Linked DNA regions of Homo sapiens: region 2 is linked to region 1. The links come from fine-mapping of genetic effects on gene expression. A gene starts in region 1. The other region holds a variant in brackets. All regions are shown on one strand. Distances are from middle to middle. Region 1 holds the start of GYPC (glycophorin C (Gerbich blood group)). Region 2 overlaps GYPC (glycophorin C (Gerbich blood group)).

Region 1 (16,077 bases):
GATGCCTTCAGCATTAAAGGAGGCACTGTGTGTGTTACACGTCCTCACTAGGTGCGGAGCAGGGCAGAGTGGGCGCTTGCCAGGGCGTGCACAGCCCCAGGCACCTGTGCCGAGTCTGCTGTAGTGCTTTGCCCTGCGTCGGCATCCCTTGGGCCCCCATCTGAGGTGATCAATGCACCCAGAGGGTCTCCAGGGCTCCCTTCTGGGCCCCTCACAGGGTGGCCTCTTTACACTGATGTCCTCCAGCCTTATCTGTGCCCTAATCTCCCTTCGAGCTGCCACTGGGTGATCATCTATCTGTCCCATGAATCGGTGGTTCCCCCTTACCTATGGGGGATGCTTTCCAAGACCCCCAGCGGATGCCTGAAACCAGAGATACGACTGAACCTTACATACATGATAGTTTTCCTATATGCGAATAACTATGATAAAGTTTATTTTATAAATTAGACACAGTAAGATATTAACAACAATGAATAATGAAGTAAAACAATTGTAACAACGTACTCTATAAAAGTTATATGAACTAGTCTCTCTCTCTCTCTCAGTATCTTACTGTACTGTACCTTAGGTAACTGAAAGCTCAGATCAGGGCAAGAGATTGTATCTCAAAGTCACCCTCTTCCCCATAGAGATTCTTCCTACATCCTTCCTCTTGATCTTGTTCCTACAATTCTACAATGAACATGAATTGCTTCTGCAATAATGAAATAGGGCAAAGACAACTTATTTTTAAACTTGTAAGTGAAGAGTAGCCTATTCTTCTGACTTAAAAGGCCAAAAGAGTAAGAGAAAGATAGAGACAGAAAATGAGAGAGACACAGAGAGAGAGAGAGAGAGAGAGAGAGAAAGACAGCAAGTAGTGCATGACCTGAGCCTCCCTAGCATCTACTCCAGCTGTGTTAGTGAAGTCCCACAGGGAGAGGTAGAGGCTGCCCCTGCAGATGCCCAGCCCAGGGAGTCCTCCCGTGACAGACAGAACTGCTAAGGAACCAGGACTGCCAACGTAGAGGAGGATCAGAGCCCTGGGAGCAAGGGGCAGATTCAGGCAGGGAGAGCAGAGGCAGTGGGCTTCAGCCCCTCAACCTCCAATGGGCTGAGCTCAGGTCACAGGGTGACTTCCATGGGCCAAGGTGCTTTACCTTATGGGTCCCTTCTCCTCCCAAATATTAGAAATCATATTGTATAGCTGCACTGGTATAAAGGCAAATGTACTATTTGATCTTAGAGGTTCATTTCCTTCCTTCTGATTTTAAAAGAAGCTCTAATACTGTTGTGGGCCTCTAGAAGCACTGTGGTCTCTGAGCACTGCGTCTGGGGTCAGGCCCTGGCTGAGCTTTCAATGTAGAGGGGGAAGAGAAGGAGGTGTGAGGGGCTGGTAGGTTCTCTGGAAGTCACATCCACTTGCTAGTTTCGGTATCATCACATGCAAAATGGAGATAAAAATACCTCCCTGGGGCTGCCAGAGGGCTAAATGAGATGGCGTCTGTGGAGTGGAGCCTCATCTCTACTCTCTGAGACAGGGCTACTGTCACCAGATGAGGAGGATGGCTCAGGATAGTGTAAAGAATCAGTGACAAAGAAAAAAAAAAGACTATGAAAATTTTTTAAAAAGGGAATACTCAGGATTTTCAACCATAACTGAAATTAATTTCGCTAAAATGAGAAGTTTTGCCGAAGTTGAAGGAAAGGGATTAATATGACAAATCCATCCAGGGCATGATCAAGCAAGGCCTGGCTCCCCTCCCAGGAGTTTGGGACCTGGAAAAGCTGGAAAAGGCTGAGAAGGAGCTTTCTCCAGAGAGAGAGAGAGAGAGAGAGAGAGAGAGAGAGAGAGAGAGAGAGAGAGACCAGAACCTTAGAGAGACCCAGCTCCAAGCCCATTCAAAGGGGAGCATGAAGGAAAAAGGAGAAATGACTGCCTAAAGAAGACATTGAAAGGTAGAGCGCATGAGGGCCAGGTGAGCCGAGGGAAGGAGGCCCCCGGCTTCACACTCAGGGGAGGGGCACTGGCAGACAGGGGAGAGGTCAGGGGCTGAGCTGAGAGGAGCTTAGAGTGCACCAGGGTCAGGGCCTTGCCCAGGGCAGGGAGAGGGTGCAGTGAATGCTGGGGCCCAGGGCACTCTTTGCAGACCTTGTTTGCCTACATGGATGGACCTTCACATCCCTCCATCCGTTTGCTGACTCATTCACTCATTCCTTCACTCATACGGTGCTTTCAAAGAGCCTACTCTTCTCCATGGAGAACCAGATGGCCCAGGTATGAGTGGTTGAGGGGCTGGTGCCCCGATGAGGTGGGGGCAAAGATGACCTCTCTCCAGGGTGATGTGAGGAAATGGAGCTCCGGAAGGTAAGAGGCTTGCTCCCCATCACACAGCTGGCGTGCGTGGCCAAGAGCAGGGCCTGCGTGTGTTTTCTGGGCTGTCTCCACCGCAGTGCTGACTCTTGGATAAAAACATGAAGGAGGCTGGGCGTGGTGGCTCATGCCTATAATCCCAGCACTTTGGGAGGCCAAGGTGGGCAGATCAGGAGGTCAGGAGATTGAGACAATCCTGGCCAACAAGGTGAAACCACATCTCTACTAAAAATACAAAAATTAGCTGGGCGTGGTGGCACATGTCTGTAATCCCAGCAACTCGGGAGGCTGAGGCAGGAGAATTGCTTGAACCAGGGAGTCGGAGGTTGCAGTGAGCCAAGATCATGTCACTGCACTCCAGCCTGGGGACAGAACAAGATTCCATCTCAAAAGAAAAACAAAAACAATAAAAACCATGAAGGAGCAGCATCGGGAGCGAGAGGGCCTTTCCCTGGTCTCTGTGGGACCACACAGATGCAGATGGCCCCCTGTCATTGGGTATGACTTTCAGTGGCAAAGGGGCAAACATCTGAGGAGTCTGGAGAGCAAGGAGGGAGCAGGGCAGTGGGGAGGAAGCTGGCGTTTAAGCACACACGCACACACTCAGTGAGCGGAAGCAATTAAGCACAATTATGAGCACATACCAGGCACTACACTAGGATGTTTATCTGTGAGAATGCACTGAATCCTCCGAACAAAGCCCTGAGGTAGAGACTGTTATTAGCTCCATTGACAGGTTCAGGACTAGCCGTAGAATTTGCAGAGCCCAGTGCAAAATAAAAACATGAGGCCTCTTATTCAAAAGAGAAGAATTTGAAGATAGCAGTGACAGAGCATTAAACCTAGGAAGTGCGGGACCCTGCTGGGCAGGTCCCATCCCTGTGAAGCCATCCCTGTGCCAGACGATGGACCAGCAACTTGTCCCAGGTCACAGCCAGCTCATAGTGGATCCAGACCCAAAACCTCATCCTCAGATTTCAAAGCTAACCCTTTATCACTAGCAAATTGACACAAAGTCTATTTGAGCTAAAGGTTTAAGAAAAAATACAGAAGGGGAACCTGAACTTGAAGCTTCAAGCATTGCTAAGGCCTGTGTGTAGGTTTCAGCAAGAGCACTGGATGAGTTTCTCAAGCGAAAGTGGATTTCATATCCAATGGGCCCCTGTTGCCCGGTGAATACAGGAGAAGGGCTTGGCTGGGCCCCACACCAGAGGCATCATTGTTTTATCAGGTTTTGATCTGGCAACCCATAATTTCCCCCCTTTTAAGACTGTGCTGAGAATACATGTGCTCATCGGCTGCTGACAAAATGTGAAGATTCTCCATGCCAGAGTTCAAGGAGGAAGAGTGGCAGTGCTGGGCTGGGTCAGCTGGAGACCCTGTGCCTGAGCCCCTCGTAAAAATGCCCACTGCGTGTGGGAGCAGCGGGTGTGAGGCGCCCTGGCAGTGGCTCTCTGCGAGGATGTGTCAGTCAAGACCATCATGTGCAAAGTGCAGATAAACAGAGCCATCAGGGTGTGCCAGGGGTGCAGGGAGATAACCAAGGCCACCCTGCCCAGGGCTGGCTCTACATGCCCCGAAGCGGAGCTTCCTCCCCTGAGCCCTGGAAAGAGGTCACTGTTGTGCCTGCTGGGCCCCAAGCAGTGTGTGACCACAGTGTTTTGGCAATAAGAGAAGGGGCATCTGGTAGGCTGGGCACAGTGGCTCATGCCTGTAATCAATCCCAGCACTTTGGGAGGCCAAGGAGGGTGGATCACCTGAGGTCAGGAGTTCGAGACCAGCCTGACCAACATGGAGAAACCCTGTCTATACTAAAAATACAAAATTAGCCAGGCATGGTGGTGCACGCCTGTAATCCCAGCTACTCGGCAGGCTGAGGCAGGAGAATTGCATGAACCCAGGAGACGCAGGTTGCAGTGAGCCAAGATTGCGCCATTGCACTCCAGCCTGGGCAACAAGAGCAAAACTCCGTATCAAAAAAAAAAAAAAGAGAGAGAGAGAAGGGGCATCTGGCTTTCACATGCATAAGCAGAAGCAGGAGAGACTAGAATGCAATTCCATAGAGAGTTCTGAAGGAGGGGTGGTGACGCCAGCAGAACGGGAGAGGGAGCAGGGACCACAGAGCCAGGCAGGTTGGCAGCAAGTCTTGCTCTGCCCCCATCTACAGCTGGGGGATGCCAGGCGAGGCAGGCACCCCTCACCAAGCCCAGGGCTCACTTGTGAAGGGGTCAGAACTGCAGAGGCTCTCCAGGGGCTGGAGAAGTCATGCCAGGGTCCACCCAACCCTCGCCTTGCCTAAGAAGGAACCCAGTGTCGCCGGCCTGGCTCTGCCTGCACATGGGAAATGGGCTCTTGCCAGTTTCTGCCATGGGTTAAGATTTTGTATAGGAACATTGTTCTGGAAGAATGTAGAAAAATGAAAATGTATAGTCTAAGGAGAGGAGCCAGCATTCTGTCAGAAGTTCCGATTATGTAAGGATCTGAAGAAAACCCCAGGCCAAGATGAGAGGGAGGTGGGGTAGGGGAAGGGAGTGGATATGAAAATGAACCCCAGCTGGGTGAGAAGGTGGGAAGGACTAGGTGGGATTCCTGGGGCCCAACAACTGTGCCTTTAGAATTTGTTTGGGGTTGACTCCTGTCCATTTCAACTTAGTATTTACTGGCCTCCAAGTCCATGCCAAGTTCTGGACCAGGAGCTCCTGAGTGAAGGCTTTTTAAAGGCTCTTTTGGTATTGGAATGGTGGCAGTCCTGGGAGCGTGGGCCTTGGGTCATCCCTGCAATCATCCACCTGCCTCAAAGTGGCTCAGCAAACCCCTGTCTGTGACAGGCCCTGAGTGGGGGACAGGCGGGGTCACAGAGCCCCTGGAGAGGTCAGAATTCTGGGAAAAGGCAGACTCAGGAATCTGTCAGGGCTGCAAACTGTGCCCAAGGCTGTGGTGGGTCGTTTTCTAGGCTTGGGAAACTGGGTCCTAGCAGACCAGCAGGTGAGTGTGTGCCAGGCCCGCGGCGTGTTGAGGGGCCTGTCGTGAACAGTTGTGAGAGGTGCAGCTGGAAAGGCAGCAAGCCTGGGACGGTGCGTGAGGGAGGGCTCGAGGGCCACCCCGAGCCAGCTGCTAAGGCGGGCAAGGGCAGCAGCAGCCCAGAGCATGCCAGGCCTGACCACAGAAAGCACAGCATGGACACAACGGTGGACTGGGGTGGGACACAGGCCCGGCTGAGGAGCTGGGGGAGGCAGGCGGGTCCTGAGTGTCTGTGCATGCAGTTCCTCAGTGTGCAGAGCCACAGCAGCAGGCCCTGCCTGGCACATACAAGCTGTGGGCCCACATACCCTGCAACTCTCTCCTTGGGTTGGCCTCAGTTGCCTGTGGGGTCTGGCAGTTTGTAACTACAGCCTGGCTGCGCCCTCAGTGTCTGGGTGCCCTATGGCGGCTTATCTCCCCCGAGCCTCTGGTGTTTCATCCGAAAGTCTCTACAAAAAATACAAAAATTAGCTGGGTGTGGTGGCGTATGCCGGTAGTCCTAGCTACTTGGGAGGTTGAGGCAGAGAATCTCTTCAACGCAGGAGGTGGAGGAGGTGGAGGGTGCAATGACCTGAGATCACACCACTGCACTCCAGCCAGAGTGACAGAGCACGAGACTCTGTCTCAAAAAAAAAAAAAAAAAGAAAAGAAAGAAAAAGAAAAGAAAATGCCTATCATAGCAGGTGTGCAGGGGAGACCCAGGAAAGCCCCTTACCAGGGCTCGGCATCTAAGTTTGTTGTTATTTTATCAAAAGCGAAAAACAACAGCTGTCTGGAGGGTGACTCCTGAAATTACCAGCATCCTCAGGCCAGGTTTGCTCCAATAAATTTCGCTAACAAAAGCCACCTCCCAAGCCTCTGCCACTGGGAGCAGGTCCAGGCCCTTCTGCTGTTGCTCTTCGGGTGACTCTGGGGAAGTGGCTGTTATCATTCCCACTCACAGATGGGAAAACTGAGGTGCTGAGGTATTTCCTCTCTCTCCCAAAGCTGGTGAACATTGGAGGGCAGTCAAACCCAGGGCTGACTCCACAGCACGGATGTTGCTCTGGCCTCTGCTCTGCCCCTCACTCGTCATGTGATGAGGACATGTCCTTTCACTTCTGGGGCACGTTTCCTCACGGGGGTGGGGTGCTGACAGGAAATGGACAAAAGCATCAACCGACACTTCCCCGAAAAGTAATACAACCTCTTATGGAAGTAAGAAAACATGCTCAGTCTCACTTAATTACAGAGGCTCATTCCAAAGTGACAGCGTTTGTTTTGTTGTTTTACCTCTCAGTTTGGCCAAGATAAAAAATGCAGTGTGAGTGAGGACGCAGGGAAATAGTGACTTTCATAGGCTATTTGTGAGCATGAGAAACCGGTGTGACCTTTAGGAGGGTAGTTTCTTAAGATCTACTAACATTTTAAATGAATACACACTTTGTCCCAGAAATCAAATGCTGAGGTGGGAGAATTTATCCTAACAGTTTACAGACACATGCATGTAAAATCCTCCTTACTCATTGTCACAGGACTGCTGTGTGTGGTTTAAAAAAATTAAATGAAGTCTGCATACAGCCTAAATGCCCATCAGCAGAGGAACTGATTAAAGAAAATAACAAGGTATAACCTTTAAGAGATATTCTGATGGAAAAAAAACAAGATGAAGTAAAATATATAAAATGCATTTTTATTATGTAAAATAAGAAATATTTGTATCAGCAAATTTACTTCTAGAAGGATTATCCTCAATAAATAAAGTAATTGCCATTGAGGTAGGGAGAAGGTGTCTTTCTCCTATTTTTAACTCTTCATTCACTGTTAACTTTACTGTTTGTTTGGTTTTGTATTTAGAGCGTGCTTGTTGGCCCACTGGGTATGCTCAGTTACTGGAAGATGTTTTGGCTGTGGCCTCAGACAGGCACTTGAGGCATAGATGTACATACAGGTCTGCCACCTGAAGAGGCAAACTGACTTGACTTGGCCCAACCTCTCACCTCTGTTGAGGGGACCTCTTCCTACTCACTGCAGATGGGTTCACTTGTTCCCACCACAAGCGCAGAATGCCTTGTACTTCACAACCCTTTGCTCCCCAGGGAGCTCTGCAAGTCCCCAGAAATACTTGCCCAACCACGGGCACCCTTGGAAGGGTCCAGCTGCTGACCACCAGCATCATGTGACTCCCAGTGCCAGTGACATCTGGAGGAATTGAGCAATGGCTGAGGTGGAATTTCATTTGGCACTTAATGCAATCCTCTGCTTCTGCCAGAGGCGGTGAATTCTATATAAAGCTGCCAAACCTGGCCGTCTTCTCACTGAGCCTTGACCCCTTCCATCCAAGGGCAAGGCAATGGATTGCTGTGCATGACTCACGCGCAGTAACTGTGGCATTGGGGCCTAGCCCAGCTGAGCTGAGCAGAGCAGGCCGGCCTGGCGGAAGTGGGTCCTCTCCGCTCTAACCTCTGGCTCTGATGAGCAGCTACATAAACTGAGACAGGATATAGACACATCCTGCCTGAGTTAGCAGCAAGAAATAGCCGCCCCCCACCCCCCCTGCAGTTCTCGCACAGCAGGGATCCTGCCATAAATCAATCCGAAGTCTAATGTGGAATGGCTTGCAAGCAAGGGCTGCACCGCTGTTTGTCTCCCAAGGCAAGTGTTGAAGGTCTGAAACCTGAGTCCTGGAGAACTGCTTGGGCTGCTGGGCTGGGCTGGGCACGGGGGCGGGGGTCAGGCAAGCCCATCCTCTTCAGACATGAGAATGCCTCTCAGCCTCACCTCCTCAGTGACTGAATTGGAATAATGACAGTGGCTCCTGTCCCTTTAACCCAGGACCTGCCGTATACACACACATAAACATATGCTCAAGTTACGTGCTCCGGGAACCACAGTCTCATGTGCAATTATATAAACATGCCCAGCACGGATCCAGCACTTAGGATGTGTCAGACTCCGTGCCGGGACATTTATACGCACTTCGTGCTGCTGGATGAGTTATCTCCTGTTATTATTCCTACTTTCCTACTTTGCAGATGAGGAAACTGGAGCTAAGAGAGGCTGCCTTGTTTATAGGCAGTGCAGATGATCCCAGTGCAGACTGAGGGGCCTCGCTCCCAAGCACCACTGATGCCTGCGCACTCCCAGGCTGACGCAAGCACAACCACAGGCACATGGAGTGCCGTGTACACACGTAGACCGAAGCAGCACTCCTCCACGCCAAGCTCCAAGCTCAGGCGGGGTGAGGGGTGAGGCCTCACAACCCCCTGGATTTCAAAGACTTATAAAAGAGTTGGTGTCTCCAATACCCATATCATTATCATATCAATAAGGTATCATTGTCACATGATAGGCTCAGGGTATCTCCTCTCTGACAGACTCTAAGAATCAGACCGCGGCAGGGTGGGGGTAAGAGGGATGTACATTACGTTTTTTGGTAAAATCAAATGGTAGTTTTTATTGCAAAAGTCCAACGGCAGAGGAAGAGGGCAGAGAGAGGCCCAGCAATGTTTCCAAGCATCTACAAAGACTTTCATCACAGATGATTTCCTCTCAGCAAGAAAACGTGATGGTTTAAAAGAGAAAACCAGCAGCGAGGAATTACAAATCCCCAAAGGATCCAGGCCGCAGGATTCCCTCGCATCTGTGTGCCTTTGCGGCGCCCAGCGGAGCGAGCAAGTCCCTGGGCAAGGCTGGAGTTGCCTGGAGTTCACCGGAGCCTGGCCGGTCGGACCCTGGCTGGGGAGCAGCACAGAAGCAACTTGTGATGTGAACTCTCACCTAACTGTTCTTTAGGGAGACAATTCTGGCCCCACACATTTCACATGCCCCGCACAAAGAAACAGAAAGCGGGCGACACGCCCTGGGAGGGCGGGCTGGCGGCTTCTCCAGCTCGGAGCGCGTGGAGGCTGCGCGTAGGGGTCCGGGACGCGGGACAGGGACTCCGCGCAGCCCAGGCGCCGGGGAACCGGGGCTGGAGTCGGGGATCTGAGCCCAGCGGACGCCTCCTCCGCCTGGAGGCCCGGCACGGACCGGGACACCAGGGCGTCCGTGGCCGTGGCTCGGCCCCTGGCTGCTGCGGGCCGCGGCCTCCAGTGGGTCCCCAGGACCCTTCCCCACGGCGGGTACTCACCGAGGCTGAGAGGCCACGCCGTGCTGTTGGGGCTTCTCGTCGACCACATTCCTGGGCGTCAGCCCGGGCAGAGACCGCGGGGACTGGCCAGGCCGGGCCAGGCCGGGCCGGGGGAGGGTCGCGCTCCCGGGCTCCTGACCCTCGGCGGCGAGAGGAAGCGGCACCTGGGTCACACTCCTCCCGCGCGGGCCGAGGGGAGGGGCTCTGGCCCGGAGATAGGCAGACTTCATTTATTTTTTTTCTGCAGACTTGGCTGGTGGGGTTTCCACCCCCTTTTTTTTTTTTAAACACACACCCGCCCACTTCTGAACTCTTCTTTGCTCCAACTTTCCTGCGCAAGAACCACGCTTTTCTAACCGTTTCTCTTTCCATCTGCCACTACCGGATACAGAGGTTGTGGTTGAGAATTCCCCCTGGAGTGCAGGGAAAACTCCCCAATGTGACATGATGGCCTGGCCCAGCACTGTCGGGGATGGTGACCAAATAGGGCAGACCTGTGTTGAAATCTTGGCTGGCTGCGCGGCCGCTGGATAGCTGGGCGGCCTCTCTCAGCTGCGGGGCATTTGTCCCTGGAGAGAGTCCCTGTCTTGTTGGCCTTTGGGGGCCCTGTACTCATGGATGGGCTGTTGAGCAAAGATCATTCCAAAACAGGAAGAATTGCTGGACAAGAGTCGTGATTTGTTCCCATTGCTTTTGTCTGAAGCTGCCAGACACAGTGCAGTTTGTGAATTCGCTCTACTTTTGCCATGAAAATCTCCACGTGGATTTCGATACATACCTTTGTTGGTTAAATGCAGTCAAATGGCACCACCTACAAAAAATGTATCATAGCATTATCTGCCCCTTCTGCCCAGAGACAAGGGCAGGGAACTTGAGGCCCTTGTTTTAAATCCCCACCCAGGGGAACACCCTGTGCTTCTCCTGTGTGATGTCTGAACCTTCCTGTGCTGCTTTTCATTGTTTACTTTATAGTTCCCCAAGCACTTTTGTGACGCCCACCTCTCCCCTACCTTCTGCCATTAAGGCCTATCCTGCACAATCCGGAGAGCCAGGCCAGCTGTCTGTACAATGTATGGGCGGTGCCTTTGGGACTGTCATCTGCATTGAATACAATGAGAGGCTGCGCCCTGGAGATTTGCAACACAGAGGCTTTGCTCACCTCTAGCCGGGCTGCACAAACTCCAGGCCTTCTTGACGCAGTGGGAAAGCACTCATGATTCACTTTAGTTAGATCATGAAGAACCCCCGATGCTGATAGATCTTTACTCCAACTGCCATGTGCAGCACAGCCATGTTGAATTGAAATAAACTACTCACAGAATGCCTTTGGCCTGGTGGGGAAGCCCTGAGTCTTGATTTCCTCATCTATAAAATGGAGGCAAGAACACCTGCATTCCGGGGTTTTACAGAGGCAGTGATTGTAGAATCACAGTGGGAACAGAAAAGGCATTTAATAAACAGCAATGAGTAATGATTAATTTATTTTTATTTATTTATTTATTTATTTTTCTGAGACGGAGTTTTTGCTCTTGTTGCCCAGGCTGGAGTCCAACGGCGTGATCTCGGCTCACCACAACCTCCGCCTCCTGGGTTCAAGCAATTCTCCTGCCTCAACCTCTCGAGTAGCTGGGATTACCAGCATGTGCCTCCACGCCTGGCTAATTTTGTATTTTTAGTAGAGACGGGGTTTCTCCATGTTGGTCAGGCTGGTCTCGAACTCCCGACCTCAGGTGATCCACCCACCTTGGCCTTCCAAAGTGCTGGGATTACAGGCGTGAGCCACTGCACCCGTGATTACTTTAACAGTTTAACTTTTTTTTTTGGTAATACATACACATACGTCTACGTGGAACAGTAGTCCCGCTCCTCTGTCCTGAGAGAAAATAACTTTAATTATCTGAAATGCAGCTGGAAAGTTGGAAAGAAGCAGAAAGTTCTGCCAGGTAACAACGGACAAGTCATTAGGTCATTGCAGCACACTTAGAGAAGTCACTTTTACAGACTCATTTAGAACCTACTGGCCTTAGACGTAATCATAAGAGATTTCCTTAATTTCTTAGGGTAAGACAGGTTGAAGGCATCAAAATGTTGCAGAGAATTCCTTACAGAAAATAAGCCAAAAATTAATAAACTAACGAACTAAACAGTGAAAATTGAAAGCCCCACAAACTGCAGAGGTCAGATACAAGAACGAAGTAGCATTTGTTACAGAACTAAAGCAATCTCAGCTCCAGCCATCACTGGAGGATGTGACAGTTCCTTGCGCTATTAAAGACCACAGGGCTTTGGAACTCAATCTGGGTTAGTTACTCTACTGCCTACTAGCTGCGTAACCTTCAGCATTTCACTTTCTTTCTCTGAGCCTCATTTTTCTCAGCCTGGAAATTGGAGCAATCTGCAAAGTTAGGCTGTTGTGAGTAATATATTCGATAATAATTAAAGAGGTAATTACAATGAGAGTACACTGGAGTTACTTAAAGATATTGGCCCCCTTCCTCCTCTAACACATACTTTGTTCATAGTAAGGACCCCAAGTCATTTGAAAAAGAAAGTAAATAGTGTGTCTTAGTGTGTAGCAAATTAGCTAACAGGGAAACATTTGACATATTTTAGAAAATTTAACTATGAAAGTGTCTAATGTTAAATAAATGACTCTTAAGAAGGGAAAATAATTATGTGAAAAATTTAATTATATGGTAACAGTCTGACATAAGTCAAGAAATGTATTATTAGTGTGTCTTCATGTGTTGGATATTTATTAATGAAGTTAAAAAAAAAACTCAGCTATATCTTGCAATAATAAACCAGTTCTTATCTTGTCTAGTTCCCATAAATACTCTTAAACGGAGTATTGCCAAGAGTCCATTGTAAAGATGAGAACCCAGAAGTTCAGCACAGTGACAAGAACTTGCTCTGCAGTGCAGCCGGGATGGACGGTTCTAGCTGTGTCTTCATTGACTGTCTGTGGCTGATACAAGCTGCAGAGCCCTCCAAGATGTGAGATGGTATGATCCAGTCCTGGAGATGAATTTTCTCTTCCTCTTCAGGGAAGAAACTGCTCATGGGAAACTGCCTTCCAAATCCTCAGTGCTAGTTCCTTATTGGGAGTGGAGTTGGCGGTCCCCTGCTGCTGTTGCTGTCTCCTGGGTGAGCCCTTACAGATGGTGGTAGGTAGATGTTGCTTGGGCCTTTAATGAAAGGTTTTGCCCCTCATCACAGTAACACATGCTCTTTGTGCAAAAAGAAAAAATAAAAAAGAAAAAGCCAAAAAGATACCTAAACCCTAAGAATTGCTTGCAATCTCCAGCACATTAAGGTTATTTACCTTTAGTCTTTTTTATGCATTTACGAATATTTGCTTTATACTCTTGAGATTTTACTGAATACGTGATTTCAAGTGCTGAGCTTTTACTACTAAACATTATGTCATGAGCATTTTCTCATGTAAAAGTAGAAAAGCTCTTTAACTCATTTTAATTACTAGGTTGTTTCATTTTCTTTGCTGGTTGAATAGTGCTGTGATAACCATATGAACATAAATATCTGGATTTCATAATTTTTTCCTTAGGGTATATTCTGACAAGCAGAATTACTCAATCAAAGGTTACAAATGCATTTAAAGCTTTTGATACATTCATAAGTTCTGGCTGTGACCTTTACTTTCTTCCCAATCAAGAGTACCAGTGTTTATCTCAGAGTCTCTTGCCAGAATTAAACAGCAAACTTAAAATCATAGTTAATTCCATAGAAAAGAAACATACATAGTTATTTGTGTCAGCATTTTCTTTGATTACCAGAGAGGCCGAATATGCTGTCAGTTGCTTATTTACAAATCACAGCTTCTTTTAGGTGAATATTTTGTTCACACTGTTTCCTCATTTGGAGGTGTGATGGTTAATACTGAGTGTCAACTTGATTGGATTGAAGGATACAAAGTATTAATCCTGGGTATGTCTATGAGAGTGTTGCCAAAAGAGATTAACATTTGGGTCAGTGGGCTGGGGAAGGCAGATCCACCCTTAATCTAGTGGGCACCATCTAACCAGCTTCCAGGGAATATAGAGCAGGCAGAAAAACATGAAAAGGAGGGATGGGTCTGGCCTCCCAGCCTACATCTTTCACCCGTGCTGGATGCTTTCTGCCCTGGAACATCAGACTCCAAGTTCTTCAGTTTTGGGATTTGGACTGGCTCTCCTTGCTCCTCAGCTTGCAGACAGCCTATTGTGGGACCTTGTGATCATGTAAGCTAATGCTTAATAAGCTCCACACTATATATATATATACAGATCCTATTAGTTCTGTCCCTCTAAGAGAACCTTGACTAACACAGATATTCGTACCAGGAGTGGTTCTAGAGGAACAGAATATGAAGGATGGAGTTCCTTCATTTGTTTTGGGGTTTCTGGAGTTGGCTGCTTAAGATGATTAGACCCCAAAATGCTAAGGAATCTACTTCTAATAGTATGGAGAACACTGATAGTCCTTGGCATGAACTGTTTAGAGAGTTATGCAAAATAAATGCATTTGACACTCCTGATTCTTCACTCGTGAGAGGCCAGTAGTTTAGTAACCCTATACATAATGCCTTTGACCATATGTGGAGAAACAAGGAACATATTGAAGCTGGTTGGTTGCCCCTAAGTTCGGGGACAAAGTGATGAAAAAAATGATGAACTCAGGGATTCTGTCTCCCGGCTTCAGAAGCAGATACTGAGCCTCAAATCTGCTAAGACTGCCCTGAGCGAAAGTCTGAACTTCTATAGAGAAAGAGCTGAAATTGTGGAAAAACAGACACAAGTTCTTATACTAGTGGCTGACCTGCAATGAAAGATGCATGCACAGCCTCACCAGGTGTCTACTGTTAGAATGAGGGCATTGATTGGAAAAGAATGGGACCCTGCAACTTGGAATGGGGACATGTGGGAGGACCCTGATGAAGCTGGGGACACTGAGTTAATAAACTCTGATGAACATTTTTGGCCAGAAGTAACAGCTTCCCCATCCCCAGTAGTGGCAACGTCCTCTCCCCCACCCATGCTGCTATCAGCCTTTCCACCTTTGTCTGAAGAGATAAACCCTGCGCTGCCTGAGGCAGTTGCCAGGCAAAATAATGTTGATTCTCCTCAGAAGCCACCCCCAACACCTCTGTTTGCTTCTAGGCCTATAACTAGACTAAAGGCTTGGTGGGCCCCTAGAGGTGAGGTGCAGAGTGTGACCCATGAGGAGGTGCACTACATTCGAAAAGAACTGTTTGAGTTCTCTAATTTATGTAAACTGCAATCTGGAGCACAGGCATGGGAATGGATATTAAGGGTGTGGGATAATGGTGGAAGGAACATGAGTTGGATCAGGCTGAATTTATTGATTTGGGCCCACTAAGTAGGGACTCTGCATTTAATGTTGCAGCTTGGGGAGTTAAAAAAAAGTTCTAATAGTTTATTTGCTTGGTTAGCTGAAATATCGATTAAAAGATGGCCCACTGTGAGTGAGCTGGAAACGCTTGATCTCCCTTGGTTTAATGTAGAGGAAGGGATCCAGAGGCTTAGAGAGATTGGGATGGTGGAGTGCATTAGTCACTTTAGACCTACTCATCCCAACTGGGAGGGTCCAGAAGATATACTCTTGACCAATTCCTTGAGAAATAGATTTTTGAGGGCAGCAACTGCATCTTTGAAGAGCCCTGTATTGCTTTTCTCTGTATGTCAGATCTAACTGTGGGAACTGCAGTCACTCAGCTACAAAATTTAAATACGATTGGAATAATTGGATCCTGAGGTGGCAGGGGCCACGTGGCAGCACTAAACAGTCAAAGGCAAGGTGGCCATAGCTACCGTAATGGACAGCAGAGTCAAAGCGGCAATAAGAATAGTCTGACTTGTGTAGAGCTCTGGCATCAGCTAAATAATCACGGTGTTCCTAGAAGTGAAATTGATAGGAAGCCTACCACATTCCTACTTACATTATACAAATGGAAAACTTCTAGGTCAAATGGACAAAATACTAATCTGAATTATGAAAACAGAGAATCATGGCCCCTCAATCAATTTGCATACTTGAGCCAGTTTACAGACCCAGTTTACAGGCCGGGTCCCCTTGATGAAGGACCCCAATACATTACTGACAGTTTGTGCAATGAATCTTTCTCTCATCCTTTCTCAAGGAGACCTCCAGCCTTTTACCAGGGTAACTGTGCACTGGGGAAAGGGAAATGATCAGACATTTCAGGGACTACTGGACACTGGCTCTGAGCTGACGTTGACTCCAGGGGACCCAAACTGTCATTGTGGTTCTCCAGTTTAAGTAGGAGCTTATGGAGGTCAGGTAATTAATGGAGTTTTAGCTCAGATTTGACTTACGGTGGGCCCAGTGGGTCCCCGGACTCATCCTGTGGTCATTTTCTCAGTGTCAGAATGCATAATTGGTATAGACATATTTAGCAGCTGGCAGAACCCCTGCATTGGCTCCCTGACTGGTAGGGTGAGGGCTACTGTTGTGGGAAAGGCCAAATGGAAGCCATTGGAGCTGCCATCACCTAGAAAAATTGCAAATCAAAAAGAATACCACATCCCTGGAGGGATTGTGGAGATTA
Region 2 (16,077 bases), 36 kb before region 1:
CTCACAGCTGTATGCCTCTATGTGTTCCTGTCATAGCAAACCAATAAAAAAGACCAAGCCTGCAGTGAGATCTCTCATACACTGGCCAGAGGATGGAGAAAAGTTTTCTGCTTTAAACTCTTGCATGTGGTTTGAGAAACAGAAGATGTTTTTGATTTTCTGGAGAGAAAGCTGGGACACTTTAAAGACCTATGAGCCCTGTTATTTAGTTCATTGCATTGTTCATTCAACATGTATTTATTGAGTACTCACAGGTACCAGGCACAATGTTAGGCAGTGCCTACCTTTTTGGGAGACAATTCTCCATGGGTCTCTTGCATTTTTCACATCTGTTGAGTGAGGCAGGAACTGCACTGTGTTCTTGACTACCTTTTCCAGGATGTTTGTGTATTAAACAGACTTGGAAGACCCAGTAGTAGCTCCCTCCAGTGCAAAAGGCAGGCATTTTACTGCCCATTATGAGATTCTGATTTTCTTGGTTCAAGATTTCTCTTCTGGAACTCCACCCACCATATGGATAAACATCCTCTGAGATCACCCACATCACCCACGTCTAACTTGGAGATGAAGAGATGCCATTCAAATATGCTGATGTCATGCTGCTTGCTGGGCTGTAAGTGCCTTTATCTCTGACCCAGGTATCTCATGTCTTCTGTCAGCATCTATGAAACTGGTATAGGCCGAATTGCTCACTTAAAAGCAGGGCAAAACCTCAGACCCTTCACAATTCTTGGCAAGTTTATATCTTCCTTTAACTTACTATTCAAAACATGAAAATGCAAATATTTTGTCACCATGTTACTGGTAAGAACCGTGGAGCACGGAGAAGTTAAGTAACTCTTCCTAGGTCACGCAGAGCTAGTTAGTGCCTGAGATGAGATTTTTGTCCAAGTCTGTCCAATTCCAGAGCCACTCTCTTTTCATAGCATCATGCTGACATGCTAAATTGCAAACATTAAAATGCCTGTAGTTCTACTTGTGGCAGTGGGCCAGCTAAAGTACTGTTGGCCCCTAAATCATTCCCGTTGCTATGATGATAAAAATCTTTAGGTAAGGAATGAAAAACAATTGAGCAGATTCTCTCCAGGGAGGACAAAAAGATAAAATCATGAAGGGGAGTTCCTTCCATTAAAAAAAGAAGAAAAAATTCTCTCTAATATTTACATAACAATTGGCTCAAAGCCTTGACCTCCTGCCGCTTCTTCTGGTGAATAGATGAGATCCATCTCTCTCCAGGCAGGATGGGCCAAGTCATGTGAAATTCAGACTAAACAATGGAGCAGCTGGAGGAGTGGGTGAGCCCCAGGGTGGGGAGGCCTCCAGCTCCACAGGCAGGGTCTGAGCCTTGCTAGATCTTTTGAAGCCCCTTTGTGAATTTCCATGGTGCATTTTCATCTTTTGTCTTGTTTAACTTGATCATTATCTTATCCATATGATAGAGACTGACTTGTTCCTTCAGTGACTCTTTATTACCTATGCAACAAAGTCCTAATTTCTTAGCTTGGGACTGAAGCCGCTCTGTGGTCAAGCCCTTATATACTGTGCAACTGGCCCAAGCCTCCCTTCTTCTCTAAAGCCTTTCCTAAGTCCATCTCACTCCCAAGATAGAACTGATCTCTCTCTCCTTAGTGTTTTAAATTGATCTGTATCACTACTCTCTCAGCATCCATAATACTTTAGGGCTTATATATATTTACATGTTTATCTTCTCCCCTAAGCTAGGGACCCCTGAAGGCAGAGGCTGCTATATTCAGCTATGTAATTTCAACACTTACATGGTACCTAATAAATGTTTGTGGATTACAGCTATATACTCAGACACACACACATATATATTATCTATCTGTCTCTGAATCTGAAATTTAATCACTAAATACTCTTAGTTTGGGAATGAGCACTTTGAAGAAGCACAAATCATCTAAGAAGTGTTGGTAGGGATGCTTTGGCATGATGTAATCTAGATGATCACTTTCCTTTTCATAAGACTGGCCTGGGTGCAAGCGTCCTGGGTGCTGGAAGTGTGGATGAGGTGTGACCGGGCTGGCAGCACTTGCTATCTCTATAAGCTAATCATCCCACCAAGAGCAGATAGGCTCCACTGCATTATCTCTCGCCACCAGGAGAGACCTCTCAACCAGGCCAGCTCTGACTAGGGATGGGGATGCTGGCAGAGGTGCCTGGGCCATCACTGTCCAGGGCCACTGGGTGGCAGAGACCTGGCTGGGGATTCTCTGATCCCAGCACTGGTCAGTCATGCCAGCATCCATGAGTCTTGATGCCACCTGCTCTGCTCCCTGGGCAGCTCCTGCTGACTCATCTCAACCTCCTGAAGGGAGGCCAGACAGGCCTGAGTTAAATGGCTCCTCTGCCATTAGAAACTGTGAGACCTCCAGTAAAGCTCATTGACCTTTCTGCACCTCAATTTCTACAGATCTAAAGGGAGGATAAGGATATCCACTTGCCAGGATTATTTCGAGGATTAAAGGAGGCTTATGTGCAAAGAAGCTGGGATTTTCTACAGACAGAGCTCTGTCCCTTTCCCTCTTCTTCCAGCCCTTCTCTGCCCCATCCCCTCTCTTCCTTTCCTCTCCTCTTTCTTCCTTCTTAACAGTCTTTTTGACTCTTTGGTGTGTGCAAATTTGTGCATTATTTACCCCAACTAACACTGGTTGCAGACGTGCTGCAGAATGACTTAGTGCATTGCTGGAGGAAGTATCAGATTTAAAAACCTGGTCCCTAATCTAAGAGAGGATTATTAATTGCCCACAAGTGTCCACCAGTGTGCACTCTGTGTGTGTGTGTGCATTATCTCTTTAAGTTGCCCTGCTCTCTGGTGTGGCCATCTGGCCTCTGCAGTTAGCCTGCAACAGTTCCCTCCTCGTGGCATCTGAGCTAGGCCACCTGGGACAAACCAGCTCTGCAGCTTCCATGTCATCACTACTGCTGCTGAGCCTGATTCTGGCTGGGTCTGGGGACCCAGTAGACTGGGAGCAGACTGTGTTTCAATTGTTTTCCAGGACACTAGGCAGGCAAAAGAGTGAGGATAAAGGGAGGTGAGGAAGGGGAGGTGAGTGGCCAGGGAGTCAAGCTTAGTATAGACAGCCCCTGGGCCCAATGAGGGAGAAAGGAATGAGTTACCATCATCCTTCCCCCACATAGGCACCTGCTCTCTAGGAGGCCTCGAGAGCCCTGGGCTCATCCTCTTCTGGAGCCTTTTCACCCCAATGAGTGTCTATGTGTAGGTTCTGGTGCCTCCTCTGTGCTCACTGGACAGTGATCTGTGCTCCCAAACCTGGAAGATGTGGGTGCTCAAAAACCTGAAATGGCATTGCCACAGGAGGGGATGTTAGAAACCATTTACCTGAGTGTTTCCAAAATGTGCTCCGAGGACCACTTGGTCCACGAGTTCCTAGCAGGTATCGTGTGAGCAAATGGGGTCTCTGGTTCAACATGCTTGGGAAAGGCTATGTGCACAGCTCCCCTCCCACCAGTGTCAGCATCCACACTGGGCCAGTGAAGACGCTGAGGAGCCTGCACTGCTTTCACTTTACATGATACATCATTTTCTAAACTGACTTGTGCATATTCATTGGGCCTATTTATCGCCATTTTTGCCACACTGGTGTTCTGAAGATCAGTGTGGGCCATGCAGATACAGCCAAGCCCTTTATTTCATAGATGAAGGCCTGCGAGCTCGGGTCACCAGGAAAAGGTCTCACTTTTGGACCAGGCTTCTGCCATCACTGCTTCTGTGAGCTCCCAGCTCATCTCCCCCACCACGGCCCCAGGATTGCCAGCTCCTCTGACAGGTGGACCCCCCACTGAGCTCACATTCCCCGTAATCCTCCCAGGGAGATCTTTGGGACCTTTCTGCCAACTCCCAAGTGGAGATGGTGCAGCCTCAAGAATCCTGAGCCCCAGGGAGTACCTAGGTGACCCCAGCACCTGGCGTGCAGTCTTTAACCTCATAGCTGCTGGTCCTTGGAGTGACAGCTGAGCTGTTGGGAATCTTGGAAAAACTCGCCTGGAAGGGGATGGTTAACCAGTTCATCTTCTCTTCCTGTTACTCTGTGATTTTGAGTGACAGCTACTCCTCAGGAAGTGTGCAGAAGTAGTGCAATGAAGAATGTTTGTTTACCGCTGCACACAGTTGCTGACACTGGAAGACAGGGAGGTCTGAGCACTTGACCCTCAACGCTGGGAGTCAGGCACAACAGAGGTGTCATTATCAGCATCATTTGTACGTGAGGGAGGAGAACACGGGGGCCAGAGGGGTCAAACAAGTTGTTCAAGGTCCTGGGACCAGGAAAGGGGAGCTGGGACCCAAAGCCATCGAGCGGAGCTCTGCAGCCTCTGCTTCCACCCCTGGGTGCCACGGTCACTGTGATTGGAAGGACAAGACTCACTCATATTTTTGGATCAGGTCCATTTGTTCTAATACTGCACCTTGGAAAATCAACACTTCAGCTAGTGCCCTGGCCACTGGGAACGGCTATTTCTAGAGGGACATTTCACCCTTCCTTTTGTTTCCTGCAGCTGGTGCCCCTGTAGGGAAAGGAAAGCTGGTCACTTGTCCTTCCTCCCTTGGCAGGCTTGGGAGCCGCCTGTACTGGCTGTGCTCTCTGGGAACTGGCCCCCACAAGAGCCAGAAATGAACTGTCCTGGCCCCGTCAGAGAATATAATATTGCACAGGTGAAAAGCAAGCCCTGGGTGGCGTTTATCTTTCCCCAGATAACTACAGTAATACTGTTGGACTCGGAATGCTCGGTTACATTTCAAATTTATTTCCAATCGTTCTGAGCTGGATCAATGGCAGACAAAGGTACCTTTTAGCTCTGGCACCTGCTGTTCCCCCCAAATGTCAAGGACTGACATTTGATGCCATTATCCCCAGTCAGCATACAGATGACTTATTTCCTTGCTTCCCCAGCCCCCGGGTACCCCAGCACCCCCTCACCCTCAACAAGGACTTTCCTGCCAGTGAGCTGATGTTGTCCTGCACTGCCCAGGGGGCCCCATGTGCCCAGATTTTCTCCCACCTCCGTGGAGCAAAAGGTGGCCTCTGGGGTGGCCATCGCCTCCCTGGGTCCCTGGGAGTGGCCTCTTGTAGCGCGAGTCCTCCTCCGTTCCTCCCTGGGCAGGCACCTAGTGTTTCCAGGTGGCTATCTCGGGAAGAATCAAGTGCTCTCTCTCTCTGTCTGGTGGTATCAGCAGGGGTGCTGGGCGATGGGGTGTATTTTTCCTGATGGAGATGGGGGAGGCATTCAGGGAAGTGAAGTCTGTTGTCCCTCAAATAAAGTACTCCTTTCTGCTGCTATCACCAGCATCTTGGAGGGCAGGGTCTCCCTGCAGGGCTGCATCTGCACTCTCAGCAAACTCCGTGCCCTTGGCCTCATTGGTGTGGTACGTGCCCTTGTGCCGGTACATGTAGCGCAGCATGACGAAGAGGAGGGAGACTAGGACGATGGCCACAGCAGCAATCACACCTGCAGGTGGGAAGAGGTGCAAGGGTCAGTCTGAGGCAGGGGCTCTGGGGCCTGGGATGGTGGTCAAGACCCACAGGGGTTGTGTGAGGACAGATACAATGCCACAACCAAAAGAGATGCTCCTTGATTTATGATGGGAGCCAGGTTCCTGTAAGCCCATAATAAGTTAAAAATACTGTAAATGAAAAATGCATTTAATACTCCAAACCTACTGAGCATCGAAGCTTGGCCTAGCCTACCTTAAGCAGGCTCAGAACACTTAACATTAACCTAAAGTCATGCAAAATCATCTGACCCAGAGACTATTTTATAATATAGTGTATCATACTATATATTGCCAGCCTGGGAAATGGTCAAAGTTCAAAATTCAAAGTACCGTTTCTACTGAATGCTTTTGCATTCACGCCATTCCAAACTCAAGAACTCATAAGTTGAACCGTGTACACTGGAGACAACTGTACCAACACCAAACAGGCCAGTTCATTCCTTCCCCATGCTTCACCAACCTGTTGTGTGGTGGCACTGTAACCTGTGCCTTCCTAAAATGATTCTCCTTTCCTCTTCCCTCCTCTCCTTCCTTCCCTCCCTTTTCTTTTTCTTCCTCACAGTTCTGCTACTAACCACTCTAAGCACTCTGCAGACACGTTAGAATCATACCCCAGGACTGAACCTTGTTTGGAGATTTTCCGTTCTAAAACCAGGAAAGTCCCAGAAAACAGGGCAGAGCTGGTTGCTCTATGTACACTATACAGGGGGAAAAAAGATGAGGCTATTAACTGTGCTTGGGGAAGGTTGTGTGGTTTGTGTTTTTCAATGGCCTGATGGCTGCTCCTCACCCTACCCTGCTCCCATTCCCTCCTGGGGACTGAGGACGGGGCGAATCTGCTGGAGGAGCAGGACTTGGCCACACAAAGGACTGAAGTGGGAGAGGGTAATGCAGAGGATGCCAAGGTGGTGGCTGTGCGAGGGGCGGTCACCCCTCACTTCTGCTGGGACTCCAGAGGGGTGGGGAAGTACAGTGTGAAGCTGCTCAGGAGGGGTCAGATCACTCAGGACCTTGAAAGTGAGGGGGCAGCAGTCTCATGGGGTGGGGGTGTTTTGAGTTTGGGCATTTACTTTGAAGCTGCAGAGCAAGCCTGTCTTTTCTTAGAATGCAGGTTTATTTGGAGGCCTTGGGGAGGGACTGCTGAAGAATATGGAAAGTCTGAAACTGCTCCCAAGTCCCACCTTTATAGAACAATTTCCTAAACTTCCTACTGCCTTCAGGGGAACACTTGTATCTGCATAATGTTAATAATATCATCTAGGAAGAATAAAAGCTCAGTGGTGCAATGAGTTGGAGAATGCCAGGTTACACAGAGTCCAACAGGTGTCTTTGATTGCTTGCTTCTGCTGCTTTTTCTTTCTTTTCAAATTGTAGATGTTTCCTGAGTTATTAATAAGCTGCTGAGAAGTGTGGATCTCAAAGAAGGTCGCAGAGCACACAGCACCTCCCAAACTTGGTTGTTCTTCAAACACAGTTTGCAGTCACAGCCATGACCCATGGGGAGCCCCTTGCCCAGGGTTCAAAGCAAGGCAAAGGCAGGATCAAGTTTCCTTGAGGATGGAGGGTTGAGGGTCATGGACCCAGGGCAGAAAATAATGTGGGATGAGGGAGATGGTGGAGAAGTCTAAGTAGCCTGGTCAGTCTACCCTCATCTCACCTCCACCCTCAACCTCCTTCACCAAAACTGCTGCCTCTCCAGCTCCTGAGTTCCTGTGAGTCAAAAGCCCTGAGAAAGGCCAATAAATACATACATAGATACGTACGATGTATGCATGTATATATATATTTACCCAGGGCTAGACTCCTCCATTCCACATTCAAAACCACCTCTGAGGGAGAGAAAAAATGGCCACAGCCACCACTGCCCAAGTCCTTAGGTCAGTTCTCCCCTGGATGTTTTCACCAAGGCCCCCCACCCTGGCTGCTTGAAGGGCTCTGTGATGAGAGCTCACCTGCAATGA[C/T]GACAATGTCCATTATGGTGGGGGTGGAGGTCTCCATTCTGCCATCCGGCCATCCAGACATCCCTGGATCAGGCTCTGTGAACAGAGGACAAGAATCTGAGGTCAGAGAGGAAGATTCTCCATGCCTAGCAGCACCTTGGCCCAAGCTGCATCCTTTGCTCAGGTGTGAGCAGCTCTGAGAATGGGTCCAAGTGGAAAGGAGCAGTGCGGCGCACCCACTGCTCCTAGCAGGGATGCACAGACCAGGAACCAGGTTCTGCTTGGTCACTGACTGGGATGGAACTGTTTGAACCTGAACCACCAGGTCACTCCAGGCCCATTTGAGTTATCTGCCTAATGCCTGCACTGAGAGTGGTGCTGCACGTGGTAGATGCTCAACAGATATCTGTGCTGTGTATGAAGGCAGGGACTCTTGTTGTGTTTAAGAAAGAATGTTTGTGGAGTGTCTGATGCTCACACCAGGTGTCTCAGTCCATTTTGTGTTGCTATAGCTGAATACTTGGGTAATTTATAAAGAAGAGAGGTTTATTTGGCTCACAGTTCTAGTGGCTGGGAAGTCCAAATTGGGCAGCTGCATCTGGTGAGGGCCTCATACTACTCCCACTCATGGCAAAAAGCAGAAGGGGATCTGACATTCGCAAAGAGACCACAAGGTGATATAGAAAGCAAGAGAGTTTAGAAAGCTGAATTTGCTTTTATAACAACCTGCTCTCCAGTGACTAATCCAGTCTCACGACAGCTAGAACTCCCTCCCTCCCTCAAGGGGGTATTAATGTATGCATGAGGGATCTGCCCCTGTGACTCAAATATCTCCCACTAGGTCCCACCTCCCATCACTGCCACCTTGGGAATCAGATTTCAACATGAGCTTTTGCAGGGTCAAACCACATCCAAACCATAGCACCAGGTGTTGCTTTAACTGCCTTCTATCTACTCTATCATGCAGTCTTCACATCCATCCTATGAGGTGCCTGGTGTTAATGGCCCATCTCACAGGAAGAACACCAAGGTTCAGAGACGTGATGTGCCCTTGATCACACAGCTCATCCGATATCAGGTCAGGACTTGGCCAGTGCTCTTGCCTCTGGAGTGCACTTTCTCTCTTGGAGAAGCCCTTCCCAGGGCTCCTGTCTGAGGAGTCATTCCTGAAGCCCTCCCATAGGTCTTTACATTGACTCTGCTGTGGGAAGGACCACTCTATGACACTATCCAAGTTACTGAGTGTGTTTTTTCACAGCTTAATGACCTGGCCAAAGAGGGTAGGATGTCTAGGACATTGGGGACCGGGATGTTTCCTAGAGCTGCTGCACAGAATGCCTTCTCTCCTCTGGGAGATGATTGTGAAGAAGGATTTATTGGATCACAGAAATATCAGTGTTAACATAGGAAATCCCACGTTCCCATTACAATGGCTCTACATAATAAAACAGAGAAGGATGCTTCATAATAGTCATTTCCACTCAGATAATCACTTTAATTATAGTGCTATGAGGTCATTCTCCCCAGTGCAGCTGCCAGATGCCTCTTTCTTATAAGTAACTGCCTGCTGGAGTCAGGAGTCATAATGGGTGAGGGGAAAACAGACTCCCAGCTAGGGGTCCACAGCAGGACACAGATGGGCCAAGCTAGGGGTGTCTGGGGCCACCAAGGAGCTTGGAGGTGGGGAAGAAGATAATACAAGGCACTGAGGCAGCCCAGGGACCCAGTGAACACTGGCTCAGGATCTGGGTCTCGGGAGCCAGGAACCAGGCAGGGTATAGGATCCAGCATTCACGGTGTTTCTCAGTAGCAAGACCTGAAGCAAGGGCCGTAGCAAGTTCAAGTGGGTGCTAGACTTTATTATATAGAGTGAACAAGTGCAGCCTCCAGTTTAGTATCTAGCACATAGTAGGTACTCAATAAATATTCACTGAATGCATGAGTAAATGCATGCATATATAAATGAATGGATTTAGTGGTGGGGTTCTAGACTTTTCCAATCAACAAGCACCTCAAAGTTCAGAAAGAAAGAATAACACCTTGCTTAAGTAGGCATGGATGGTTATAGAAGCTCAAATACCCAGAACTGCCCTCAGAAATTTTCCAGGTGAAGACAGCATTTATTAGGACAGTTTGTCCAACACAATCAGCGTTAGAAGAGACTGTTATTTCCTCTTCCTTTAAAACAACTAACAATCGCTTACTAGGTGCCAGGTGCAGGTCTCAACATTTAAAGCAATTTAACATGGTCCTTGCAACAGTTGCAAGAACACTGCTTGGAGATTATTCATTCTAAAACCAGGGAAGTCCCAGAAAACAGGGCAGAGCTGGTTGCTGTATGTACACTATACAGGGGGAAAAATGAGGCTATTAACTGTGCTTGGGGCAGGTTGTGTGGTTTGTGTTTTTCAATGGCCCGATGACTGCTCCTCAGCCTACCCTGCTCCCATTCCCTCCTGGCGATTGAGGACTGGGGTGAGTCTGCAGGAGGAGCAGGACTTGGCCACACAAAGGACTGAAGTGGGAGAGGGTAACGCAGAGAATGCCAAGGTGTTGGCTGTGCGAGGGGCAGTCACCCCTCACTTCTGCTGGGACTCCAGAGGGGTGGGGAAGTACAGTGTAAGGCTGCTCAGGAGGGGTCAGATCACTCAGGACCTTGAGAGTGAGGGGGCAGCAGTCTCATGGGGTGGGGGTGTTTTGAGTTTGGGCATTTACTTTGAAGCTGCAGAGCAAGCCTCTGTCTTTTCTTAGAATGCAGGTTTATTTGGAGGCCTTGGGGAGGGACTGCTGAAGAATATGGAAAGTCTGAAACTGCTCCCAAGTCCCACCTTTATAGAACAATTTCCTAAACTTCCTACTGCCTTCAGGGGAACACTTGTATCTGCATAATGTTAATAATATCACCTAGGAAGAATAAAAGCTCAGTGGTGCAATGAGTTGGAGAATGCCAGGTTACACAGAGTCCAACAGGTGTCTTTGATTGCTTGCTTCTGCTGCTTTTTCTTTCTTTTCAAATTGTAGATGTTTCCTGAGTTATTAATAAGCTGCTGAGAAGTGTGGATCTCAAAGAAGGTCGCAGAGCACACAGCACCTCCCAAACTTGGTTGTTCTTCAAACACAGTTTGCAGTCACAGCCATGACCCATGGGGAGCCCGTTGCTCAGGGTTCAAAGCAAGGCAAAGGCAGGCTCAAGTTTCCTTGAGGATGGAGGGTTGGGGGTCATGGACCCAGGGAAGAAAATAATGTGGGATGAGGGAGACGGTGGAGAAGTCTAAGTAGCCTGGTCAGTCTACCCTCATCTCACCTCCACCCTCAACCTCCCTCACCAAAACTGCTGCCTCTCCAGCTCCTGAGTTCCTGTGAGTCAACAGCCCTGAGAAAGGCCAATAAATATAAATACAGATACATATGACATACCTATGTATATTTATTTACCCAGGGGTAGACTCCTCCATTCCACATTCAAAACCACCTCTGAGGGAGAGAAAAAATGGCCACAGCCACCCCTGTCCAAGTCCTTAGGTCAGTTCTCCCCTGGATGTTTTCACCAAGTCCCCCAACCCTGGCTGCTTAAAGGGCTCTGTGATGAGAGCTCATCTGAAGTCACGGCAGTTTCCATTATGGTGAGGCTCTGTGATGAGAACTCACCTGCAATGGTGGTAGTATGCATTGTGGTGGAGGCAGAGGCCATCCCCGGATCAGGCTCTGTGAACAGAGGACAAGAATCTGAGGTCAGAGAGGAAGACTCTCCATGCCTAGCAGCACCTTGGCCCAAGCTGCATCCTTTGCTCAGGTGTGAGCAGCTCTGAGAATGGGTTCAAGTGGACAGAGACAGTGTGGTGCACCCACCGACTCCTAGCAGGGGTGCACAGACCAGGAACCAGGTTCTGCTTGGTCACTGACTGGGATGGAACTGTTTGAACCTGAACCACCAGGTCACTCCAGGCCCATTTAAGTTCTCTGCAGTATGCCTCCACTGAGAGTGGTGCCTGCATGTGGTAGATGCTCAACAGATATCTGTGCTGTGTATGAAGGCAGGGACTCTTGTTGTGTTTAAGAAAGAATGTTTGTGGAGTGTCTGATGCTCACACCAGGTGTCTCAGTCCAATTTGAGTTGCTATAGCTGAATACTTGGGTAATTTGTAAAGAAGAGAGGTTTGTTTGGCTCACAGTTCTAGTGGCTGGGAAGTCCAAATTGGGCAGCTGCATCTGGTGAGGGCCTCATACTGCTCCCACTCATGGCAAAAAGCAGAAGGGGATCTGACATTCGCAAAGAGACCACAAGGTGATATAGAAAGCAAGAGAGTTTAGAAAGCTGAATTTGCTTTTATAACAACCTGCTCTCCAGTGACTAATCCAGTCTCACGACAGCTAGAACTCCCTCCCTCCCTCAAGGGGGTATTAATGTATGCATGAGGGATCTGCCCCTGTGACTCAACTATCCCCCACTAGGTCCCACCTCCCATCACTGCCACCTTGGGAACCAAATTTCAACATGAGCTTTTGCAGGGTCAAACCACATCCAAACCATAGCACCAGGTGTTGCTTTAACTGCCTTCTATCTACTCTATCATGCAGTCTTCACATCCATCCTATGAGGTGCCTGGTGTTATTGGCCCATCTCACAGGAAGAACACCAAGGCTCAGAGACGTGATGTGCCCATGATCACACAGCTCATCCGGTATCAGGTCAGGACTTGGCCAGTGCTCTTGCCTCTGGAGTGCACTTTCTCTCTTGGAGAAGCCCTTCCCAGGGCTCCTGTCTGAGGAGTCATTCCTGAAGCCCTCCCATAGGTCTTTACATTGACTCTGCTGTGGGAAGGACCACTCTATGACATTATCCAAGTTACTGAGTGTGTTTTTTCACAGCTTAATGGCCTGGCCAAAGAGGGTAGGATGTCTAGGACATTGGGGACCTGATGTTTCCTAGAGCTGCTGCACAGAATGCCTTCTTTCCTCTGGGAGATGATTGTGAAGAAGGATTTATTGGATCACAGAAATATCAGCATTAACATAGGAAATCCCGTATTCCCATTACAATGGCTCTACATAATAAAACAGAGAAGGATGCTTCATAATAGTCATTTCCACTCAGATGATCACTTTAATTATAGTGCTATGAGGTCATTCTCCCCAGTGCAGCTGCCAGATGCCTCTTTCTTATAAGTAACTGCCTGCTGGAGTCAGGAGTCATAGTGGGTGAGGGGAAAACAGACTCCCAGCTAGGGGTCCACAGCAGGAAGCAGGTGGGCCAAGCTAGTGGTGTCTGGGGCCACCAAGGAGCTTGGAGGTGGGGAAGAAGATAATACAAGGCACTGAGGCCGCCAAGAGACCCAGTGAACTCTGGGTCTGGAGTCAGCACCTTGGGAACCAGGAACCAGGCAGGGTAGAGGATCCAGCATTCACAGTGCTTCTCAGTAGCAAGACCTGAAGCAGGAGCCATAGCAAGTTCAAGTGGGTGCTAGACTTTATTACAGTGAACAAGTGCAGCCTCCAATTTAGTATCTAGCTCATAGTAGGTACTCAATAAATATTCACTGAATGCATGAGTAAATGCATGCATGTATAAATGAATGGATTTAGTGGTGGAGTTCTAGACTTTTCTAACCACTATGCACCTCAAAGTTCGGAAAGAAAGAATAACATCTTGCTTAAGTAGGCATGGATGGTTATAGAAGCTCAAATACCCAGAACTGCCCTTAGAAATTTTCCAGGTAAAGACCAGCATTTCTTATGACAGTTTGTCCAACACAATCAGGGTTAGAAGGGACTGTTATTTTCCCTTCCTTTAAAACAGTTAATAATTTCATACTAAATGCCAGGTGCTGCTCTCAACATTTAATGTATTTTAACTCAGACCTTGCAACATTTCCATTCGATAGGAGTTATTATTAGCCCCATTTTCCAGATTTGGCAGCTGCGTCCCAGAAAAGTGTTATTTTCCCCGGCTTGTACCTTGAGAGTCAGAAGTCAATCATTTGAAGCCCTGGCAGCCTTGAGTCAGTGTGTTTAGCCTTACAGGGCACTGCAAAGTGTAGAGCCTTGGTAAGCTGGTTTCCAGGTGAGATATTTGGCTTGAACAACTTGGGGTGCATTTCTTGGCTTCTGGTTAGGGACCTTGTACTCAAATCTGTATACTGGGAGACTACACACACTTCCAGCAGGGCAGCCAGGCTGGGAGGGGAGGTAGGACCTGAGAGCTTCGGGGCCTCATTGGGAGACCATTGGGATTGCCAGCTGGGCCTCCCAATGTGGGCTCCCTCCAAGCTCATGCCCTCTGAGGAGCGTGGTGGGCAGGAAAGTTCCCTCAGCTGGAACTACTCTCTCCATGCCCCCCACCCCACCAAGTGTGTGGAGCTGAATTTACACATGTTTCACAATGTGACAGACTCCAGGGGAGTGACATTTCAGCCCAACCAGAGCTGCCCTATATTGATAGATCAGAATCAGCATAGAGAGGAAGCTCAAGGCTGTCTGGGAAGGTGTGGATGCTGTGAGACAGCAATTCTCAAAGCATAGTCTCTGGATACACAGCATCCTCTGGGAGCCTGTTAGAAATAGAAATTCTCAGGCCCCAGCCCAGACCTACTGAAGAAAAACACTAGGACTGGGACCCAGTAATTACTATAGTAGATTCTGATTCATGCTGTAGGCTGGGAAGTGCTGGTGTAAAGAGGGCTTCCAGAAGCGGTGACATCAGGATTAGTCCTTTAAGGGCAAATAGGAGTTTGCTGCACAAAGCCTATAAGCATTCCAGGCAGAGAGCTCAGCATCTAAGGCAGCTCTCCCCACTTCTCAGCTTTCTCCCCAGTGTCTGCTTGCCATCCACGGCTCCAAGGCTCCGGAAGCCTCTGGAGATGGAGGGGTGAGAGCCCCCCTTGGCGCACTCCCTTACACTGTACCCATTCAGCTAGCAGCAGTGATATCAGGTCTTTGGAGAAGACTGGCTGAGTGAGCTCAGATCCAGCCCAGAAAGTAGGTGGTTGGTCTGCATCCAGCTTAAGGGGCCTGGAATGAAAGCCTGCCCCTTGCTGGAGCTGAGGGATACTTCTGAGGTTGAGATTAGGATCATGCTGAGCTCAGCAACTAGGATGGGGGTGATCTGCGGGCAGCCTTGGGGGTGGGTTCATGGCAGAATAAGGTGTTGATTACGGCCAAGCTTGGGTCTGGTATCAGAAATAGACAATTACCCAGCACAACGATTGGACAGACATGAGAGGACCTATTTTTTGGAAAGACCCAAGCATCCTACTTTTTTTCTTCCCAGCCCTCCTCCAGGTTGCAAGGTCCCCCCGGCCCCCTGCAACACCCTACCAGACAGGAAGCTCCACACGTTCAGGCTTGTCTTGCTCACAACTCTATACTCAGCATTAGACTGGGTGCCTGGCACTGAATGACAACTGCTGAATGTTTGAAAGCCTTCTGGGGAACCACGAACCAACTAAACTGCAGCCTTCACTATGCTCATCTTTGTGGAGTTGGGAGTGGCTTTTCATCCATGGGATTTGCCATTGGCTACAGTCATTCCTACTAACTCTCTATGTCCTCAGGATGTCAGCTGTCCATTCTCTGGCAGAAGGCAGCCACCCCTGGAGGCAGCGGGGCACACAGGCACAACCCTGCAGTGCGGGCAGTGCTCTCTGCTTCAGTTGGCAGCTTGAGTGCAGCTGTTGGGGTGCAGAACCTCAGTTGCAATGGATTCTCAGGGCCAGTGGTATTTTTCAGATGTGGACGGAGAGCAGGGGTCAGGTGCTAGCCCTGAGGCTGGAAGTCACACTCCTCTGTTGCCACCAAGAGCCTCTCTTCTCTTGCATTTTCAGATGACACTGTGCTAAAAAGTTCTCTTTTTTTCCTGCGTGGGCTGGTCTTTACATTTCCCGGCCCATCTCCTATGGCTCCCCTCTGCCATAGGAGTTGTTGAAGGGGTTCCCCACTTCCTGTCTTCCTCCTGTCCATCTGTCCCAGCAAAGAAGGAAGAATTCAGGCACAGGGTGAGGGCTCGAAGGAGGGGAGTTGAGAGTGAGGATGGCTTCAGACTAGAACACCTAGGTGTTCTGGGAGGAGGAAGATGATTTCAGCCTCAAAATCATGACAGGAAATGCAGGTGTTTCATGGGGGTCCTTGGAGACTTCCTGCAATGACAAACCTTGTTGATGACAGTGATGCAGCAGCAACAGCAACGTTGACTGCTTGACAGTTGGCCAGGTGCTGTGGCAGTTACCTGGAGTGTTCAATTGCGAGGAACCTACAAGCCTGGTTAGAAAAGTCAATTTACCAGGCCGGGTGCAGTGGCTCATGCCTGTAATCCCAACTTTGGGAGGCTGAGGTGGGTGGAACACCTGAGGTCAGGAGTTCAAGACCAGCCTGACCAACATGGTGAAATTCCATCTCTACTAAAAATACAAAAATTAGTTGGGCATGCTGGCGGGTGCCTGTAATCCCAGCTACTCAGGAGGCTAAGGCAGGAGAATCACTTGAACCTGGGAGGTGGAGGTTGTAGTGAGCTGAGATTGCATCATTGCACTCCAACCTGGGCGACAGAGTGAGAATCCCTCTCAAAAAAAAAAAAGAAAGAAAGAAAAGTCAATTTAACAAGCACTCTGA

What was found.
Region 2: its variant is fine-mapped to the expression of GYPC in whole blood (TOPMed, PIP above 0.99).

The regions. Positions count from the first base shown.
Region 1 is chr2:126,649,724-126,665,800 of GRCh38, reverse strand. It overlaps GYPC (glycophorin C (Gerbich blood group)), which reads right to left and starts at 9,643. Exons shown (of 4, transcript NM_002101.5): 1 at 9,489-9,643. The coding sequence starts at 9,537. RefSeq lists enhancers at 1,100-1,259, 7,944-8,173, 8,364-8,613, 8,071-8,910, 9,704-9,993, a silencer at 9,244-9,613 and a cis regulatory region at 14,398-14,737.
Region 2 is chr2:126,685,356-126,701,432 of GRCh38, reverse strand. GYPC (glycophorin C (Gerbich blood group)) reads right to left here. Exons shown (of 4, transcript NM_002101.5): 2 at 11,122-11,178; 3 at 7,486-7,569; 4 at 4,766-5,487. The coding sequence ends at 5,291. Among named protein-coding and RNA genes, the nearest start is that of GYPC, 37 kb to the right of the region's middle. The variant C/T (reference allele first, on the strand shown) is at 7,495.